Linked DNA regions of Homo sapiens. Each later gene encodes a partner of the first gene's protein in a complex. Each region holds a gene or a part of one and is shown on either strand. Other genes may lie near its edges.

Region 1 (7,037 bases):
GGGCTTAGGTGGCAAACTCCCAGTTTCTTGTTGACATTTTCAGTGCAATTTAAAGATGTTAATTTAAAAAACTACCTGTGCTGTAGAGATCAGTAACCCTCAGGGGGCAGACAAAAAGACTGTTACTGCATCAGTTAGAAATGTAGTACTACCTGGGCAACATAGTGAGGCCCATCTCCACAAATAACTAAAAAGTTAACTGGTTGTGGCTGCACATGCCTGTGGCCCCAGCTATTTAGGAGGCTGAGGCAGGAGGTTTGCCTGAGCCGAGGAGGTTGAGGTTGAGGTTGCAGTAAGCTGTAATCACGCCACTGCACTCCAGCCCAAGCAACAAAACAAGACCTTGTCTTCAAAAAAAAAAAAAAAACCATACAGCAAAACTGATGCCTTAGTTGTTTTATTTTAGCATATCCCCAAGAAATCTAAAATATTTAGGAGGCCTGCTTAAAGTGCAATCTTGAACTTTACCAGATTAAAACATGAAGCCAAAGAAAGCTGCCACCTTTCCGTGCACTATTCCCAACCTCCATGTACCTACCATAGGATTGCTTTTTATGAGTGGAGTAATATGGCTTAATTTTATTTTAATATACTGGAATGCTTTGTCCAGTCACAAGTCCCAAGAGCTTCTCATCCCAGTCTATCCAAATGAACTGCCAAAGCCCATCAACATAATCTCCATTCAAATTTTAAGTTTCCCAATCTGCATTGAACAAATGCATAGTATCACAAAGCACTTGGCAGGTGTGGTGGCTCATAACTGTATCCCAGCACTTCAGGAGAGGCCAAGGAAGGAGGATTGCTTGAGCCCAGGAGTTTGAAGCCAGCATAGGCAAGAGTCAGACCCTCTCTACAAAAAATTTAAAAATGACCCAGGGATGGTGGCATGAGCCTGTGGTCCCAGCTACTTCAAAGGCCAAGGGAGGATTGCTTGAGCCTTTGAATGTGAGGCTGCAGCGAGCACCACTACACTCCAGCATGGGCAACAGAGCAAGACTCTGTCAAAGATACTCGCATTAAAACCCGTTCCCTTCTAAATCTCTGTACTCGCCCTGTAATTTTCATCACATGTCTCTCTGACCCCCTTGTACTCCAAAAATGCTGAGCAACCTCTATCATTTTAAGCATGTAGCAAATCAATTTAAGGTAGTAAGTTTTTTAATCCACTTAAAAATACAAGAGCACAAATCCACATTTATTTATTGATTTTTCGTTAGTTTAAATCCTTGAGGGGTACAGCATCTGCAGGGAAAAAAGAACACAAAACATTAGGTGAATGTTATATATACGTCTACAAATCAAGAACCGTAATACGGATAAATCTCTGAAAGGCTACCAATTACATGTTCTAGTGGTAAGGAAAGTTTTTATAGCCTTCAGTCTCTACGTGAACATACCGTAAGAACCGGCACTCATAAAAAACATGTACTGGCCAGGTGCTGTGGCTCACACCTGTAATCCCATCACTTTGGGAGGCCTAGGCGGGCAGATCCTAAGGTCAAGAGATAGAGACCATCCTGGCCAACATGGTAAAACCCTGTCTCTACTAAAAAATACAAAAATCAGCTGGGCATGGTGGTACGTGCCTATAGTCCCAGCTACGCAGGAGGCTGAGGCAGGAGAATCGCTTGAACCTGGGAGCTTGCAGTGAGGCAAGATCCCACCACTGCACTCCAGCCTGGTGACAGAATGAGACTCTGGTCTCAAAAAAAAAAAAAGAAAAAGAAAAACATGTACTGAAGGTACATTTAATTTTGCTTCTTCTAAAGACAGAGTAAAAGCCTCCTCTGTTGATAAACCCTAATGAACCACTTAGCAGGGTTCAACAGTACCCCCTGGCCCCAAGAATACATGGTATGCATATATTCTTGGTCCCAAGAATATACAGTCTACATTCCAAAATGGACCCTAAAGAAAAAGTACGAACTATTTGAGAAAAATTACAGGAGAAAATTGAGAAAAATTTAGAGTCCAAGGCTGGCACCAAAGACCTGAGACCTAGGAACATGAGAGTCTGTTTTCTTCATGTACAAAATAAAGCTACTAACACCTGTTCTAACAAGACTGACATGATGGAAATGGCAAAATATTAACAATTATGCCAGGCGTAACTGTTGAATTGTTGCTTTCTAACAATTACTTCAGTGCCCAATAAATATCTTCACCAGAAAACTATTTATTCAAGGCTGGCTGTGGTGGCTCAAGCATATAATCCCAGCACTCTGGGAGGCCAAGGTGGGCAGATCACTTGGGCTCAGGAGTTCAAGACCAGCCTGGGCAACATGGAGAAACAAAATACAAAAATACAAAAAATTATCTGGGCATGGTGGTATATACGCCTGTAATTCCAGCTACTCGGGAGGCTGAGGCACAAGAATCACATGAACTTTGGAGGCAAAGGTAGCAGCAAGCTGAGATCATGCCACTGCACTCCAGCCTGCGTGACAAAGTGAGACCTTGTCTCAAAAAAACACAACAAAAACCCCAAAAATTAGCTGGGTGTGGTGGCACACGCCTATGGTCCCAGCTACTTGGGGGGCTGAGGTGGAAGGATTGCTTGAACCCAGGAGGTCGAGGCTGCAATAAGCTGTGATTATGCCACTGCACCCCAGCCTGGGTGACAAAGTGAGACCCTGTCTCCCCCCAAAAAAAAAACAAAAAACAAACAACCAAACACCTAATTCTTTCAATTACTATCTCTCCAGTGTTCTGCAATACACAAATTTTGCAGCATAATTTACTGGTGTCAATTTCACAACCACAGAAGTCCTCAGAAGTCAAAGCACAACACCTTGAACCTAGTCTGATTCATCAGACGTCCATTTTGCTAAAAACCATACTCACCACTCGGATTCTGTGTCCAATGGCCTTAGCAGGAAGATTGCTTCGGAATTTGGCACGAACCATGCCACTGTTTCCATGGGCCCGAGTTACTTTTCCCCAGATGACTCTGGTTTTGTTTGGTTTGCCGCCAGGAGTGACTGTGTTGCTGATTTTAAAAAGGGAAAGAAGAGGAATACAAGCTGATATAGTTGGATACAAATTCAAGGTGACCTCTACACGAGTGGCTCTCAACCCTGGTTACCCACTTCATCACCTGAGAAACTTTAAATGCCTAGAACACCATTCATTCAACAGATACTTATCGAGTAACTATTGTATGCCAGGCCCTTCTGTAAAATACAGCAGCTATAAAACAAAAATCTTTCACATGATAACCAAGTAAGTTTAAGGAAAATACATAGGTCAGATGATAACAGAGGCAATATTGAAAAAATAGCAAAAAAGGACAAGTGTGAGGATATTTGTGTGTACAGAAAGGAGGAATTACCTGCCATTTTAAATAGCCAAGGAAGGTCTCACTGAGGTGACCATGGAACAAAGACTGGAAAGGGAGGGGAAATGCCATGAAGTGATCACGGGATGACTAGCGCAGGCACTGGGGCCAAGGAGTGTGTGTCCTGGCCGGAAGAAAGACTGAAGACACCAAGGGGTTAATCCCAGCTGAGATAAAGAGAATTATGGAGCTCTTAATGACGGGCTTTTACTGAATGAGAGAAACTACTGTGGTTCGAGCAATGTACAAAGGATATGACTTTATATATATTTCCTTTAAAGACCACGGGGTTGTCTTGTCACCCAGGCTGCAGTACAGTGGCCCAATCATAGCTCACTGCAGCCTCTATCTCCTGGCATCAAGCAATCCTCCCACCTAGGGCTCTCAAATGCTGGGGCTACAAGTGTGAGCCACTGCACCTGACTTAAAATTTTAAAGGAACACATTGGCTGTAGAAGAAAAGGTGGGGCAATGATTAAAACACTTTCCCAGAGATTTTAATTGGCTTGGAGTGGGTGAAGACAATAGGATTTGCTCTTGTTGTCCAGGCTAAGGTGCAATGGCACGATGGCTCACGCCTGTAATCCCAGCACTTTGGGAGGCTGGGGCGGGTGGATCACGAGGTCAGGAGTTCGAGACCAGCCTGGCCAACATGGTGAAACCCTGTCTCTACTAAAAATACAAAAGTTAGCCGGGTGTGGTGGTGCGCGCCTGTAATCCCAGCTACTGGGGAAGCTGAGGTTGCAGTGAGCTGAGATCACACCACTGCACTCCAGCCTGGGCAACAGAGCAACACTTTGTCTCAAAAAAAAAAAAAAGTCTACAGCATAAACATCTTTAGGCATGCATAAAAACTAATTTTGGCCTGGTGCAGTGACTTGCGCTATAATCCCAGCACTCTGGGAGGCCGAGGCAGGTGGATTACTTGAGGTCAGGAGTTCAAGACCAGAGTGACCAACACTGTGAAACCCCGTTTCTACTAAAAACATAAAATTAGCTGGGTGTGGTGGCACACGCCTGTAATCCCACCTCACTCGGAGGCTGAGGCAGGATAATCGCTTGAACCCGGGAAGCAGAGATTACAGTGAGCTGAGATTGTGCCATTGCACTTTAGCCTGGATAACAAGAGCAAAACTCTGTCTCAAAAAAGAAAGAAAAAAAGAAAAGAAAGAAAAGAAAAAACAAGGGGCGGGGCACCGTGGCTCCTGCCTGTAATCCCAGCACTTTGGGAGGCTGAGGTGGGTGGATCACAAGTTCAGGAGTTTAAGACCAGCCTGGCCAAAATGGTGAAACCCCATCTCTACTAAATATACAAAAATTAGACAGGCATGGTGGCGGCCGCCTGTAATCCCAGCTACTCAGGAGGCTAAGGCAGGAGAATCCCTTGAACCCGGGAGGCGGAGGTTGCGGTGAGCCGATATTGTGCTACTGCACTCCAGCCTAGGTGACAGTGAGACTCCGTCTCCAAAAAAAAAAAAAAAAAAAAAAAAAACCCATAATTTTAAGGCATTAACAAAATGCATTAAGCACAAGTGTTCTAAAAATCCTTAAATTCTGGCAAAAGGAGCCGAGAAAAAAAATTAGAAACCTTAAAAGGATCACAATATAAGGAATTACCTCCTTTATTGCTTACAAGTGCAAAAGGTACCTAAATCCAACACCACCCTCAGAAGTAACGTCCTTCTAAAACTCCCCATTAAGTTCCTTAATGACGCAAAATAGAAGCCACAGCAATACCAATCCAGCCTGGCCAACATGGGGAAACCCATTCTCTAGTAAAAATACAAAAATTAGCCGGGCGTGGTGGCACACCCCTGTAAGCCCAGCTACTCAGGAGGCTGAGGCAGGAGAATCGCTTGAGCCAGGAGGCAGAGGCTGCAGCGAGCCAAGATCGCGCTACTGCCCTCCAACCTGGGCAACAGAGACTCTTGTCACAAAAACAAAAAAACAATACCAAGTACTTCAGCTAAATCTTTTGTTTATTATTTCAATAGGATAATGAGGCCAGGCGCGGTGGCTCAAGCCTGTAATCTCAGCACTTTGGGAGGCCGAGGTGGGCGGATCACCTAAGGTCAGGAGTTTGGGACCAGCCTGGCCAACATGGCAATACCCTGTCTCTACTAATAATACAAAAACTAGCCGGGCGTGGTGGCCGGCGCCTGTAATCCCAGCTACTCGGGAGGCTGAGACAGGACACTTGCTTGAACCCGGGAGGCGGAGGTTTCGGTGAGGGAGACCAAGTCACTGCATTCCAGCCTCGGCAACAGAGCAAGACTCCGTTATATAAAAAAGAAAATGAGGCAGATCTCAAAAACCCAAAACCTACCAGTGTCATAAACTTACTTCTTTGCTTTATATACATAAGCGCATCTCTTGCCCAAATAGAATTCTGTTTCATCTCGGGCGTAAACACCTTCAATTTTAAGAAGAGCTGTGTGCTCCCTTTGGTTCCGGAGACCCCGCTTATAGCCAGCAAAAATGGCCTTGGACCACAGCCTAAGACACAAAAGATACACAACATGAAACATAAGCTTCAAAAAACCAATCTGACTTGTAATCACCCCCACCCAAAAGTTACTCAGAGCAAACATCTAAGTTTTTTCTTGCCAATTTTAAGCTCGCATTTACGTTCACGTCTAACACACAAAAATAAAGAACTATATTTAAAACGCGTACCTTCCAGACATAGTTCCTTTTAGAAGTCCCGTTCCCAGCAGGCCTTAAAACAAACAAAAAGATTAGTTTAAAACCAAGCCACACAAGTTTCCCACCTCGTCCCCTCTCGTTTAAGCCCCTAAAGCAAATTCCTTTTGGATGGGAGTTTCATGTAGGAGTTCGGGGACAACAATGCCAGAACATCCATATGAAACGCAGGGTCCGGCAAGACATTCAAACCTCAGAGAACAGCTGGTATCTAAGCAAACTTCAGAATGAAGACAAAACTAAGGGACAGGAGTCACAAAAATGACTCTCAGAAAAGCCTGAGAAAATGCATGCCGTTATCAGTAGGCAACACTCAGGAAAAGAAATGAAGCCTTAAAGAGAAACACACACGTAAGACTTTTATGCAATGGCTGGGGGAGAAAAGCTGAGGAAAGAGACTGGTCAGACAAGCCAAGGAAGGTATGGACTGGGAGGAAACGGATGAAGGAAGCACTGCCTCATGGACAACTGCACACGAACAAAAACATCGTTTCACTCCGTTCAGGCCCAGGAATTTAACTGGGATAACCCGGGCAGCCGTTCTCCGGGTGTCAGGGGACCAAACACCATCAGCCCAACATCTCCTCCATCCTGTTCTCCCTCTTCTTGAAACCCGTAGAAATCAATGGCTGGCAGAGACTCCGATACGCACCGGCGACTCGCCAAGGCACAGGAACAAACCTACTCCGGTTATTTGCCCCCAAATTTCAGCAGCAGACCCTTCACTCACCTCCACAGGAGCCAAGATGGCGGTAAGAGAAGGACGAGGCCCCGCCGCGTGGCCTTGTGGGATTAAACATCTTTCGACTCCGCCCTCAATTTAGGCATCTTCTCCAAACGCCAGAAAAACAATCCTCGGAAATCGGCTTCGCACTGAAATAAGCCACATTCAATAGCACTCTTACAATTATTTTCCTAAGTCCTTTCATCTTGGTAGGCTGCAAAATGTACTACTTGGGAACAAGGGAAGGCAAAATGGTAGCCAGCTAAATCCGCC
Region 2 (7,037 bases), on another chromosome or scaffold:
TCTCTCTGGGGAGGTTTGGTCTTAGAAATCAGCTACCATACTGTGAGGAAGTCTAAGCAGCCCATGGGCAGGTCCAGATGAAGAGGAACCAAGCCTACTGGTTCACAGACCTGGCTGAACTCCCAGCCAACAGCCAGCACCAACTTGCTAGGCATGCAAAAGAAGATATCATCTTAAAAGTGGATCTTCCACCCCCTGCAAAACCTTGCCAAAATTTCAAATTTTTAAGCAAACTAAGTGATTCCTGTTGTTGTAAGCCACCAAGTGCTTTAACTGGTTGCATGTCACATGGCAATAGATAATTGACACACCAAACAAACAGAAAATGACTACACAGCCAAATCAAATCTGTCATTCCATCCATCCCTAGCAACATACATTCTGAAAAAAAAAGCCTAGCCATAACTATCTTTCATTTTAGATTTTTAAATTTCAAACATTTAGAAACAGTAGTATAGGGAACACTTATGTACCTATCACCCAGTTTCAACAATAATTATTCTGTGATTTTTGTATCATCTATATATCTACCCATTTCTACCTATTCTCAATTATAATTTAAGGTAAAATTTATATTATTTCAAATGCATAAATCTTATTAGTATAATTTTGATAATGAAAATACCCACACCCCGGGTGTGGTTTCTTTCCAACTCTCCGGAAAGTTCTCATGTCCCTCTCCAGTTAATCCTCCTGTATCACTCAGAGTCCAGTCAAGAGACAGAAATCACACCCGTGTTTTGAATAAAGAACAATTTATTCTATCTCATAAAGAGATTCTAATAAAGAATGCAATTCAAAGAATTACTAACTAGTAAAAAGAGAGTAACTACTAAGAGCAAAAGAGAACACTAAAGGACACCCTGTGGCTCAGACAGAGTACCCAAAGATGAAATAACCTTGGAAGGAGGGCAGCCACCTCCCCAAGGCTGAGATTCAGAGAATGTGGAGTGTGGCTGAGGTATAGTGGGGAAGTCCATTAGGTTGCCCTGAGACAGAGATAGTTCTCAGCCATGATGGTCCAAGGCTTGGTGAACAGGACCCCACCAGCTCACACTAGTGAGCAGACGCCCCCTGCTGGGGTGCCAATGGGCTGAGGCTGGTGAGCAAAACTTGCTGAAGAGTGGGCACCACTGGGTGCACCACACACATGCTCCTGGAAGCTGTGTCATGTGAACAAGAAGTGAGGAAGCACACAGGAACCAGGAACTGAAGTCCCTCTCCCTCCAGGGTCCCTCCAGCACTGACAAGGCTTAACAACATGCTAGCCCAAAGCAATGCCAAGGTCTAGATCATGACACCAGTCCAGCTTCTAGGTGTCAAGGGCTACTTTTCTCCTCCTCAATATTTCTGCAGTATTATAATCAGCTGTCTAGTTTTATGGGGAAAAAAATTTTAGACTTTAACTAAAATTGCATTGAATTTATACATTTTCTGGGAAGACATTACATGTTGTTATTTTCCCATTCATAAACACAGCAGAGTACTTCATTTCTTTAGGTCACCTTAAACATCTTTCAATAAAATTTTACAAATTCCTCCAAACAGGTCTTTCACATCTTGTCCTAAGAAACCTTATATTTTTTGTGGCTATTATGAATGTAATTTCTTTTTTTTTTTTTGAGACAGAGTCTTACTCTGTTGCCCAGGCTGGAATGTAGCGGTGCGATCTCGGCTCACTGCAAGCTCTGCCTCCCGGGTTCACACCATTCTCCTGCCTCAGCCTCCTGAGCAGCTGGGACTACAGGCGCCCGCCATCACGCCCAGCTAATTTTTTTTGTATTTTTAGTAGAGACGAGGTTTTACCTTGTTAGCCAGGATGGTGTCAAGCTCCTGACCTCATGATCCACCCGCCTCAGCCTCCCAAAGCGCTGGGATTACAGGCGTGAGCCACTGCGCCCAGCCTATGAATGTAATTTTTAAAAGCTACTGTTTAAAACTTTGGTTCTAGTGAATTGAAATGCAATTGATTTTTTAATATTCAGTGGAAGAATTTTGTGAGGATTTTTTTTTTTTTTTTTGAGATGGAGTTTCGCTCTCATTGCCCAGGCTGGAGTGCAATGGCGTGATCGCAGCTCACCGCAACCTTCGCCTCCTGGGTTCAAGAGACTCCCCTGCCTCAGCCACTCGAGTAGCTGGGATTAAAGGCATGCGCCACCACGCCCAGCTAATTTTGTATTTTTAGTGATCTTTCTCCATGTTGGTCAGGCTGGTCTTGAACTCCAAACCTCAGGTGATCTGCCCGCCTCGGCCTCCCAAGAATTTTTTTTTTTTTGTCTACTCTTTCACTGTGGGTGTAATGGAATTGTCAGAAACTGAAAATACTAGGAAATGTAGGACTATGGATATTGAGAGCCCATTTGACAACTGAGGATTGAATTTAAAGTGACACAATTCAGTTTAATTGTGTGTTCTTCCTTTAAATAATGTTCAGTTGCTCAGGGGTAAGCACGGACTGCTGGATATTTGAGTTTTACCAGGGATGGGTGTTTGTCACATCAATAGGACAGAGGGAGAAACAGGTAAAGGAGATAATCGTATTTGAAAGTGATCATAATGATGGTGTGGTGGCATTTTAAAAGCATGTCTGCAAATGATATTTCTTACATAAAGAGGTGGGGTTTAATTCCTCTCCTCTTGAATATGGATTAGTCTTAATAATCCACTTGTAATGAAGAGAATACAGTGAAAGTGATGTTGAGTAACTTCTGGGGCTAGGTTATAAAAGGAGATTTTACTTGGCTCTGTCTCTTGGACACCTGTTTTGGGACCCAGCCTCCACGCTGTGAGGAAGCTCAAGCTACATGGAGATGTTACACATAGATGTTCTACCTGTCAGTCTCAGGAGAGGTCCTCATCGACAGCCAGCATCAACTGCCAGGCATGTAGGTAAGGAAGCCTTCAAGATGATTTTAACCTCAGCCACTCTGACATGTAAGTGCATGAGGGATCTCAAGCAATAATATTCTGTCAACTCCCATAACTGTGAGAGGCAATAATAAAATGAATACTGTTATTTTAAATCACTAAATGTTGTAAAGACATTTAGGTAATAGACATCCACAATAATGATGAACCAAGGAATCTAAGATGGGTAAAGAGAGAAATAAGGACATAAGAGTAATATTTGACAGTGCAAAGATAATTGAATGAAATGGTGGTTTGAGTCAGTTGAAGAAGTGCTAGTGTAGAAGCTCCAATGTGAGTGAGCTAAGAAATTAAGAGATAAGTGGATGAAGAAATGGAGATTTCAGAGATGGTACAGCAATTTAGGATAAAATGGTTAAGAGTATGACCATAGAAGGACATGACTGAGGAACGGTGAAAGCAAAGATAACTGGAAGAAAGGTCAAGGATGTGAACGGAACATCCCTGTGAATACTGCGGGCACAAGAACAATGACAGGAGTAGAGAAAAAGGAAGATGGTGAGCCAGATGCTAATGCTACCAACAAAACATAGAGATTGGTACATAATGAAGACAGTGAGTGCTAAATCTGATGTTATGAACTACAAAGAAGCTGAGACTTTAGAAAAAGGAGGGAAGATACATAGTTTGGAAGTGGAAATGGGGAGCCAAGGAAGACACCTAACCTATCTCTAGATCTGAGGTAAACTGAGGAGTGAAACAAGACAGTCTCCCTAGGATTTCATATCTGAGTAGGATGTGGAAAGTCACCATGGTCCAATGACCCTGCTACAACAACTAGAAAAAAACAGACACATTACAAAAATCACATTTAAAAAAGATATTGGCGAGCCATGGAATTCCAGGGGAAGGAAATTTTTCTGAAGTGAGCTGACAATGCACAGCTGCTTTTTTTCCCTGGGAACGTGTGCCAGCTCTGGGTAGGAAAGAGGACAGGGCTGGGCCCAGGCAGAGAAAGTCTACAAATGGGAAGAGAAACCAATAGGCTTATGGTGGTGGCACGGGGGTAACATGACAGGTTAGAAACTTGAGGTGCCCCAAGTGTGGCCACTGTCTCCCATAAGGCAGTGAGTTCTGGGAGTGTTCACACAGGAGGCTGAGGAGCTAGAACATCAACTCCTACAAGGCAGAGTGAGTCTTTCATAATCTCAGGGAAGGAAGAGGAAGCCTGCCTCAAACATACAGCCAGCATAACCTTCAATGTACTTGCCAGATTTTAAAGTTGAGGGCCCACGGCCACCACGCCATCTGGGAAGTAAGGAGCACCTCTGCCCAGCCGCCCCACCATCTGGGAAGTGAGGAGCGCCTCTGCCCGGCCGCCCCACCGTCTGGGAAGTGAGGAGCACCTCTGCCCGGCCGCCCCACCACCTGGGAAGTGAGGAGCACCTCTGCCTGGCTGTCGCCCCCTCTGGGAAGTGAGGAGGCCCTCTGCCCTGCCGCCCCACTGTCTGGGAAGTAAGGCGCACCTCTCCCTGGCTGCCCCACAGTCTGGGAAGAGAGGAGCGCCTCTGCCCAGCCGCTGCACCTTCTGGGAAGTGAGGAGCGCCTCTACCTGGTTGCCGCCCCATCTGGAAAGTGAGGAGCGCCTTTGCCCGGCCGTTGTGCAACCCTCGAAGTGTGAAGTGGCAGCCTTGTGTGTGATTTTTATGCCCTCCCCAAGTTTGCATTTTTGATATTAAAGTTTACTTTTAAAAGTTTTAAATTGGGGAATATATATACATATATAAAAGTTGAGGGCCTAGAAGGGAAACTAAAGAGCTAAGCTTAAATACCTCCGAAGAGCAGAACCAAATCTCTCACAATCTTTCAGTCTGAGGAGACAGAGACTGGCTAGCTTCTCAATCAAAAGCCCAGAAGAGCTATGCCTGAGGAATAGGGATGAACCAGATGTAAACCGAACCCAAATAAATCCACAGTCCAAGCTCAACACAGATCAGTCCCTTCCTGGACTGAGGTCATGAGCTCTGTACCCTATACAGAGGAAAGGACGAACCTTTGCTGGCGAAAGAGTATATCATCTGGAACTTCTATTGTTCTTTTCTCACACAATGTCCAATAAAAATAAGAAATTACTAGGTATGGGCTGGGCGCGGTGGCCCACGCCTGTAATCCCAGCACTTTGGGAGGCCGAGGCAGGTGGATCATGAGGTCAGGAGATCGAGACCATCCTGGCTAACACGGTGAAACCCCGTCTCTACTAAAAATACAAAAAAATTAGCCGGGCATGGTGGCAGGCGCCTGTAGTCCCAGCTACTCGGGAGGCTGAGGCAGGAGAATGGCGTGAAGCCAGGAGGCGGAGCTTGCAGTGAGCCGAGATCCCGCCACTGCACTCCAGCCTGGGCGACAGTGCAAGACTCTGTCTCAAAAAAAAAAAAAAAAAAGAAATTACTAGGTATGTATGAAGGCAGGAAAATGTCTTGAATTATCAACAGAAGAAAATAAGCAATAGAAGCAGACCCACAAATGATCTGGATATTCAAGTTAACAAACAATGATTTAATTTTATGTATTTATTTTATTTATTTATTTTTTTAGAGACACAGTCTCACTCCATCACCCAGGCTGGAGTGTAATGGTGTGATCTCAGCTCACTGCAACCTCTGCCTCCTGGGTTCAAGCGATTCTCATGCCTCAGCCTCCCAAATAGCTGGAATTACAGGCGTGCACCACACCTGGCAAATTTTTGTATTTTTAGTAGAGACAGGGTTTCAGCTGGTCTCGAACTCCTGGCCTCAAGTGATCCACCCACCTCGGCCTCCCAAAGTGCTAGAATTACAGGCATAAGCAACAAACAATAATTTTAAAATAACAACCATCAACATGTGTGTTGATCCATTTTGCACGGCTATAAAGAAATACCTGAGGCCAGGTAATTTATAAAGAAAAGAGTTGTATGCGGCTCAGGGTTCTGCAGGGTGTACAAGAAGCATGGTGCCAGCATCTGCTCGGCTTCTGGCGAAGGCCTCAGGAAGCTTTTACTCACTGCAGAAGGCAAAGGGAGCCAGCATGTAACATGGGAAGAGAAGGAGTAAGAGAAACAGCTAGAGGGAGGCTCTTCTAAACAACCAGCTCTTGGGTGAACTAATAGAGGGAGAACTCACTAATTATCACAGGGGAGGGCACAAAGCCATTCTTGAGGGATCTGCCCACATGACTCAAATACCTCCCACTGGGCCCCACCTCCAACACTGGGGATCAAATTTTAACAGATTTGGAGAGAACAAATAAAGAAAACAGAAAAAGGCAAACTGAATGAAAAGATGCATAATTCTAATAATCAGAATTTATTTAAACATCAAATTGTCATTCTAGAACTGAAAAACATGTCTAAAATTAAGATTTCATTTGATGTATTTAAGAGTAGACTGGACACAGCATAAAACAAAATTAGTAAACTTGAAAACCATCAATGAAAAAGATCCAAACTTGAGCTCAAAAAGAAGAAAATGGGGAAAAAGCAGAAGAGATCAAAAGAGGCATGTAGAACAAGGTAAAGAAAAAGAAAAAAAAAGCTAACATATGTACGATTGGAGTTCCAAAAGGAAAAGAGAGAACTGAATAGAAGTACTATTTGAAAAGAACCAAGAATTTTCTAAAACGGATGAAAAATATCTATCAACAGATTCAGTAAGCCCAGGGGACCAAGCAGGATTGTTTAAAATGTTTTTTAATTTTTTATTTTTTTAGAGATAGGGTCTTGCTCCATCACCCAGGCTGGAGTTCAGTGGTGCAATCATAGTTCACTGCAGCCTCAAATTCCTGGGCTCAAGTGATCCTCTCCTCTCAGCCTCATGAGTAGCAGGGACTACAGGTGTGAGCCACTAAGACAAGTTAGCTTTTTTTTTTTTTTTTTTTTAATTTTTGTACACACAGGGTCTCACTATGTTACCGAGGCTGGTCTTGAACTCCTGGCAAGCAATCCACCTGCCTTGGGCTCTCACAGTGCTGGGATTACAGGCATGAACCACCAAGCCAGGCCTGATTTTTAAAAAAATCAGTCTCTATTCAAGAGATTTGCAGGAAAATGATATTGTAGGTAGAAAATCAGGTTTTATTTAGGACAGGTAGATGAAATTCAGAAGAGGTTAAATATACAGGGAAAACTTTAA
Region 3 (7,037 bases), on another chromosome or scaffold:
GGAAGCTGAGAGAGGGTGGCTTCTGGGAAGCTTCTCCTCATTCCAAAAAGAGAAGAAAAGGGAGCAGGTGTTCTCCCGGTTTCTGCCTCTGGGCATGTCCCTGTATGAGATGTCAGAACTGTGGCAGCCATCTTGGGACTGACAGAAGCACTAGCGAGGCATTGGCCATGAGACTGGGGTGGGCAGAGCAGAGGGTAGCACTGAACCCAGGGGTTTACCGACCCTACAACCCTCTAATTCTGGTTGTGGGAGACACTGAATATTCCTCCTGCTTAAGCCATTTCTGATTAAGCTTTTTATTACTTGCAGTCAACAGCACCCCCTCTAGAAACTGTGTGTGTGTGTGTGTGCGCGCATGCACGTGTGTGTGCGTGTATGTGCCTGTGTAGGTGAGCAAGGCTGTTCTCATGGGGAGGTTTAGTAGAGGGTTCAGTGACCTAATGGAGGGCCCTGCTCAATGGTCATCACAGCTCCAACCCCTGCTGGGCTGGGTGGGCTAGCCCCAATGTGAAAGAATTTCACGTTGGGAGGCAGAATGCTACCATTCTGTGGTTGTGACCCAGTAGTGTGTTGCAAAGTCAATTTAATGGGTCACAGAAGCATTTTAAAAAATACAATAGAATGGAATGTAAAGGAAAATATCAGCATATATCACGTCATAAATTTCAATATTATGTTTATGTCAGTGTTCATGTAAATTGCATTTTTTTTTTGAGACGGAGTCTCGCACTGTCACCCAGGCTGGAGTGCAGGGGCACGATCTCAGCTCACTGCAATCTCCGCCTCCTGGGTTCAAGCAATTCTCCTGCCTCAGGCTCCCAAGTAGCTGGGGTTACAGGTGCATGCCACCACATTGGGCTGATTTTTGTATTTTTAGTAGATATGGGGTTTCACCATGTTGGCCAGACTGGTCTCGAACTCCTGGCCTCAGGTGATCTACCCACCTCAGCCTCCCAAAGTGCTGGGATTACAGGCGTGAGCCACTGTGCCTGGTCGTAAATTGCATTTCTTACTCTCAGACTTGGTTAAGAAAGTTTTAGAGACACAGTCTATTAGAAAGGACTCAGGCTTTCAATCAATCTTGGGTTTGAATCGTAGCCTTGCCACTTGCTACTGACTTGATGCCCTTGGGCAACTCACTATCCTCTCTGAAACTTAGTTTTCCATCTAGAAAGTAGGGTTAAATATACTTAGTTATATACTTAAATATATTTAGGGTTAAATATGCTTAGGGTTAATATACAGTTACTTAGGTAACTGTAAGGATTAAAGGAAAAATAATCATTGGGATACACAGTATGTGTGCATACTTGATGCAGTATGTAGTATGTAAACTCTGTGATCTTCACAATTATCCCACAAGTACCCCTGGCAGTTGGATTCCACACCCACCCTCACAAGCCCAGAATAGGTGGCTCACCAGCCCGATGTGGTTGCAGGACAGGTTGATGCTGGTGAGTGTGGTGTTGATGGCGAGCACCTGTGACAGGAGTGTGGCGGTGGGCTCAGACAGCTCATTGCCACCGAGGTGCAGCGTGGTGAGGCACTTGTTGGTCTGCAAGGCATGGGCAAGAGCCTGGCCACCCTCATCCTCGATGCAGTTGAGACGTAGGTTGAGGGAAATGAGGTTGGTGTTGTGTGCCAGAGCGTGAGCCAGGGACTGGGCACCGGGTGCACGCACCTGGTTGTTAGCCAGGTTGAGCACACGCAGGCGGCTGTGGCTCAGCAGCTTGGCAGCACCTCGTGCACCACGGTCTCCAATGAGGTTTTGTGACAAGTCCAGCTCCTCGAGGACTGGGTGGTCCAGAAGGCTTCGAATTATGATGCGTGCCTTGTCATCATCCACCTTGCTTCGGGTCAGCTTGAAGATCTGTGGGCAGGCAGAGGGTCTACAGCAACTGCCAGCCAGGGATAATCAGCCTGCCCACCTAGATCTTTGGCAAACTTGGCTCACCTAGTGTTGGCCACCTGGCTGGGTCTTGGAGGGGGCCAGGCCTACCAGCATGGCAGAGTAGTGTAGAATTGGTGGCAGGTAGCAGGGAGGAAAGATCACTGTTTATTGAGCAATTACTACATGCTGGGTATGCTGCTTGGGTCTTCCTTTTTTATCTTTTTTTTTTTTTTTTTTTTTGAGACGGAGTCTCGCTCTGTCACCCAGGCTGGAGTGCAGTGGCGTGATCTTGGCTCACTGCAAGGTCCACCTTCCGGATTCACACCATTCTCCTGCCTCAGCCTCCTGAGTAGCTGAGACTACAAGTGCCCGCCACCACGCCCTGCTAATTTTTTGTATTTTTAGTAGAGACAGGGTTTTACCGTGTTAGCCAGGATGGTCTTGATCTCCTGACCTCGTGATCCACCCGCCTCAGCCTCCCAAAGTGCTGGGAATACAGGCGTGAGCCACCGCGCCCGGCCGCTTGGGTCTTTCACAACCATTATCTCTAACCTTCAGCATCTCGATGAAGAAGAGAAAGTTCTCTCCATTTTACAGACAGAAAATGGAGGCTTACATTATTTCCCCAGAGTAATGCAGTGATTGAAGCAGTTGAGACAGGTTTGGAATCCAAGCCTGCCTGAGGCCTCAGCCCCTCACTGCATCCTCCTCTCCCAGCCAAGATCCACCAGGGCAAGGAGAGGACCTCTTTGAAGGAGGTTGCCAGGGCAAGAACCAGGGAGACAGTGGGGAGGTGGAGAAGCAGGAAAAGGATGAGATAAAGGAATGAAGGAAAGGGGATGGGGCTGGCAGTATGAATATTGTCCATGGGAACCTCTCCCCCTCACCTTCCCGCTGGCTTGTCCCACTCCTCTCTCTCCCTTGAGACCTCTGAGTGTCTGGCCTCTCTCTCTCTACCCTTCGGTTCACTCCTTTTTATACCCCTCTTACCCAGCTGAGTCCTTTGTGTCTCTTCTCTTTTCATTGCGTCTCTCTGGCAAAGCCCTAACCCTGGATCAGCCCCACTCTCTATTTTCTGCATGCCTGTGCGCAAGCAACTGACAAAATAGAAAACATCAGCTGATGGGACTGGTTGCTATCACCGGAAACACCAATAGGCTTGTAACGCTGCATGCCAATCTAACTATATTTCTCTGGCCAAAATACCCTCTTATAATCTACAACAACTATTTCAGCTTTTTGCAGCCTCCTCAGAATTCAGGGGCCTCCTTGCTGAGCCCCCTCTTTCAGCAGGTGAACTCTCCTCTTGCCTTCTCAGTCATTGAATGGGAACCTGTCATTTTCCTGATACCAAGCACTGACTTATTGGTCTATGAACCCGTGCCTCTCTTCTACATTCATCCCCTTTCTTGCAACTGGATGGAGCCTTACACTGGTTTTAAACATATGTGAGTTATTCTGAAGGAACCCAAAGCTCTCATCGGTTATGGCTGTACCTTTTCCCCTTCGCAGCCAAGTTCTTGAAAAAGCTGATCACAGCCACCCATTCCTCACTTCCCACTCTCCCCAGAAACCACTGCTATCTGGCCTCTGCTCCTGCCACTCCACTGAAATAGCTCCCCCTCAGTGACCTCCATGTTCACTAAATCCAGTCCTCAGCTCTATTCCACCCCGTTGCTCACTCCCTCTACTTGAAACATACCCCTCCCTTGCTCTGTGACACAATGCCATGTTTCCCCATTTCCTCCTCCCTCTGGCTTCCTGGCAAGCTCTTCTTCTTCCACTGAGACCACATGCCAGGCCTCTTGTTGTCTTGCTTTTGGCTCTCCCCTGTGAGACTCCATCCAAACCCAGGGCTGCAACTGCCACCTTCATGAAGATGGCACACATTCCCACATTCAATTCAGACCTCTCATCTGAGCTTCGGACCCTCTACCCAACTAACGAAATGACCCCTTCTTTGAGATGCCTCAAACTGAAACTTACACTCTTCCCCCTCAAAACTGATCCTCTTCCCACATTCCCTGTCTCTGCACATGGTCCCTCCAGCCATCCAGCCTCACAAGCCAGAGGTCTTGCACCTCACCTCCTTCTCCTTCCTTCTCCTTCAGATCCTCCCTGTGCCAGTGTGGCCAGGTGCATGCCAGACACATGTCTGCCTAAATATGTGTTGACTCTCTCCACTCCTTTGAGTCTCCACAGACACTACCCTCGCTGAAATGACCCTCACCCTCACCTGGATTTGGCAGTGATCTCCTAGGTAATCTGCATGTCCACTGCTGCCCTGCCCAGGCCATCCTCCCTCACAGACGGAGTGACATTTTCACATGTGAAATCCAGTAATGGTACCTACTTTTTTGCCTAAAACCCTTGGATGGTGTCCCAGAGCTCCTAAGGATAAAGATAGCCTCCTGGACAAAGCCTCCTTCACCCAGCAAGGCTGACCACCTCACACTCTGCGCCAGCCACACAGTCTTCTCTTTCTCTTTGAGCTGGCCATGTTCACTCTGCCCATAGAGCCTGTATGCACTGCTCCCTCTGTCTGGAACGCTCCTCCCTCTGAGACTGTAACTCGTCCTCCTCCTTCTAATCTCTATGTAAGTGACATTTGTTCAGGGAAGCCTTCCCTTGCAAGGTCAAATGCTCCTTTACAATCTCTCATAAGAGTATCTCTTCTTTATAGCATTCATCCCAATTCAGGGGTACCAGAAAAAAGTACAGGATGCCCAGTTAAAAATAAATTTCAGATAAATAAGAACGCCCCATGGAATATTCGGGACATACTTATAAAAATTCTTTGCTGTTTATCTGAAATTCAAAATTTTTGGAGACAGGGTCTCATTTTGTAACCCAGGCTGGAGTGCAGTGGTGTGATTGCAGCTCACTGCAGGCTTGAACTCCGAGGCTCAAGGGATTCTCCTACCTCAGCCTCCTCAGTCTCTGGAAGACTACAAGCGTGCCTGGACCTGAAATTCACATTTAACTGGATGTCCTGTATTTCTATTTGCTACATCTGGCAACCCTATTCTAGTATCAATTTTATGTTTATATGATTGCTGATTAGTGCCTTTATCCCATCAGACTGTTAGCTACAGAGGGCACAAATGATAATCTTGCTCATCCTTGAATCTTCAGCACCTAGGACAGGGCCTGGAGCGCAGCTGTTTGTTCAATGAAACCAACTGGTGAACTGGGAGAGCAGCGCCTTGTTCATCTCTACACCCCCAGAACCGTGTATCTTGGTGCAGGGTGCATTAAAAAACACTTGGCCAATGAAAGAGAAGGAAATAGGAAGAAGGCAATAATAGAGGAGGAAGAGGAGGGGAGAGGGAATCTGAGAGATGCTGAGAAGGGGTGGGGGGAAGGCTGGGAGCAGACAGTACCTTGAGGGTGTGGCATGCCTTGATGGCGGCTGCCAAGGAGAGGCAGTCACGGTAGGTGAAGAGGAAGAGATTCCACTCGAAATTCATGCCGCAGTCCTTGACATCGTACACCAGGTCCAGCTCCTCCAGGTGGCTCAGGCCAGCTACCAGATCGCCCAGTTGGTAGTGGTCAACGGTGGGCTCCTCCATCTCTCCCTCGCTGCCTGAGTCGGACTGGTCGCCCGGCCGGAGCTGGGCCGGGAGCTGCACCGGCGGAAGGAACTGATCGACGTGGACCCTGCGCACGTAATTCCGGCAGAGCGGCAGCAGGTCGAGGATCACCGCAGGGTCTGTGGTGCCTGGGATAAAGTGCTTTAGCAGGTTCTCCAGGTGCCGCTCGAAGAACATGCGTTTCCAGCTGCCGCCATGGTGGGCCACGTGGCACACGGGCCAGCGATGCATGCAGCAGCGGAGCCAGTAGTTCTCACTGTCTATCAGGTTGGCGGTCACAGCCAGTGGTAGGTCAGGGGACAGGTGGTTCAGGACCTTCTGCTGGTGTTCCGGGAGCATCTGCTTCAGGATAGGGTTTTCTTTGGGAACAGAGGAAGGAGCGCAGGGGGTCACAGTGTTGGGGGACACCTCAACATGATGCCTCAGGCTGGGCCTGCCTGGGAGCACCAGGCAAAGGAGAGACCCTTCCCTGCTTAGGGGATAGACAGCCTCTGCTCTCAGGGGGGCTCAAGCAGAGGGTGGGACACAGCCTTTAGCTTTGGGATGTTCCCTGCCTGAAGGTGGACATCTCAGCATCTGTTCTCAGGGAGTTCCCAGACTGAGGAAGACTCTCAGGTCCAACTCTCAATTATCACCTGGTCTGATGGGGGATACAATCCCTGAGGTCAGAGGCTTCCAATCTTATTTGATTCATCCATTTCAAAACAAGAAATTTTTTGAGCACCTACTATGTGCCAGACACTGGAGGTAGCACTATGAGAGACTACTATGTCCCACGTGCTGGAGATAGAAGAGTAAGCAAACAGGGCTCTCCCTTTTGGAGTTTACATTCCAGTGAGGGGAGGCTGACAATAAACAAGTAAAATGAGTGAGACTGGGTGATGATAGTTGCTGTAGATGAAATAATGGCCCTGTCCTCAGACAGCGCCCCATCTGGTAGGAGAGGCTGGCAGTCCATCTTTGGAAAGGATCAATATTACAGAGCACAAAATATGGAACAAACCAAGAGCCCTTACATGGCATGGAAGACTCCATCAGAGTAGAGGGCGGTTCACTTGGGAAGGCTTTCTGGAGGAGGAAGTAGATATGGCTCAGGCTGGGTTTTGCTGGAGAGAGTAGAAAAGGCAAGGAGAGGGCAGAGGCATGGAGGGTGCAGTGTGGGTGGGAGTCTGGTGGGACCTGCCAGTGGGAACAGAAGGAGAAACTGTCTTGGCCCTGGGTGGAAGGGAAGTGTTGAGTGGGTATGAGGATGCCATACGGGAGAGCAGGGGCTGCCCCAGGACCCAGCTTCTGCAGTCTTGGCTCCGGACAGTCCCCACCCACCTAGCCCCCCTCTTGGCCTTCTCCTGCCCACCTAAAGCAGGGACAGACTCACTCTGGAAGTTCCTGATAATGTGCTGAATGCAGAGCTCTGTGAGGAGGGGCACGATGGCCAGTGACCACTCAGGATCCTCAGCAATGATCCGGCGCATCCGACGGATATTGGCCCTGGGATGTGGGTTCCTGGACTTTGCAGGGACTGGTGTGATTGAAGGCTTTGAGAGCTGTGGGCT

The links. The genes of interacting proteins can lie anywhere in the genome.
Region 2: DRC9 (region 1) and FBXL13 share a complex: the UniProt entries of both Homo sapiens proteins name them as parts of the nexin-dynein regulatory complex.
Region 3: DRC9 (region 1) and DRC5 share a complex: the UniProt entries of both Homo sapiens proteins name them as parts of the nexin-dynein regulatory complex.

Annotation. Positions count from the first base shown.
Region 1 is NC_000003.12:197,949,955-197,956,991, reverse strand, and holds part of DRC9 (dynein regulatory complex protein 9), read left to right. Parts: intron 1-381; exon of another isoform or gene 382-1,218; coding exon of another isoform or gene 1,219-1,242; intron 1,243-2,844; coding exon of another isoform or gene 2,845-2,989; intron 2,990-5,680; coding exon of another isoform or gene 5,681-5,833; intron 5,834-6,013; coding exon of another isoform or gene 6,014-6,024; exon of another isoform or gene 6,025-6,056; intron 6,057-6,692; exon of another isoform or gene 6,693-6,802; intron 6,803-7,037. Other genes in the region: RPL35A (large ribosomal subunit protein eL33), read right to left, coding at 1,219-1,242, 2,845-2,989, 5,681-5,833, 6,014-6,024. UniProt on the Homo sapiens protein: Component of the nexin-dynein regulatory complex (N-DRC), a key regulator of ciliary/flagellar motility which maintains the alignment and integrity of the distal axoneme and regulates microtubule sliding in motile axonemes.
Region 2 is NC_000007.14:103,064,788-103,071,824, forward strand, and holds part of FBXL13 (F-box and leucine-rich repeat protein 13), read right to left. Parts: intron 1-7,037. UniProt on the Homo sapiens protein: Substrate-recognition component of the SCF (SKP1-CUL1-F-box protein)-type E3 ubiquitin ligase complex.
Region 3 is NC_000006.12:44,280,690-44,287,726, forward strand, and holds part of DRC5 (dynein regulatory complex subunit 5), read right to left. Parts: coding exon 6,860-7,037; intron 6,591-6,859; exon of another isoform or gene 6,501-6,590; intron 5,844-6,500; coding exon 5,275-5,843; intron 1,871-5,274; coding exon 1,421-1,870; intron 1-1,420. UniProt on the Homo sapiens protein: Component of the nexin-dynein regulatory complex (N-DRC) a key regulator of ciliary/flagellar motility which maintains the alignment and integrity of the distal axoneme and regulates microtubule sliding in motile axonemes.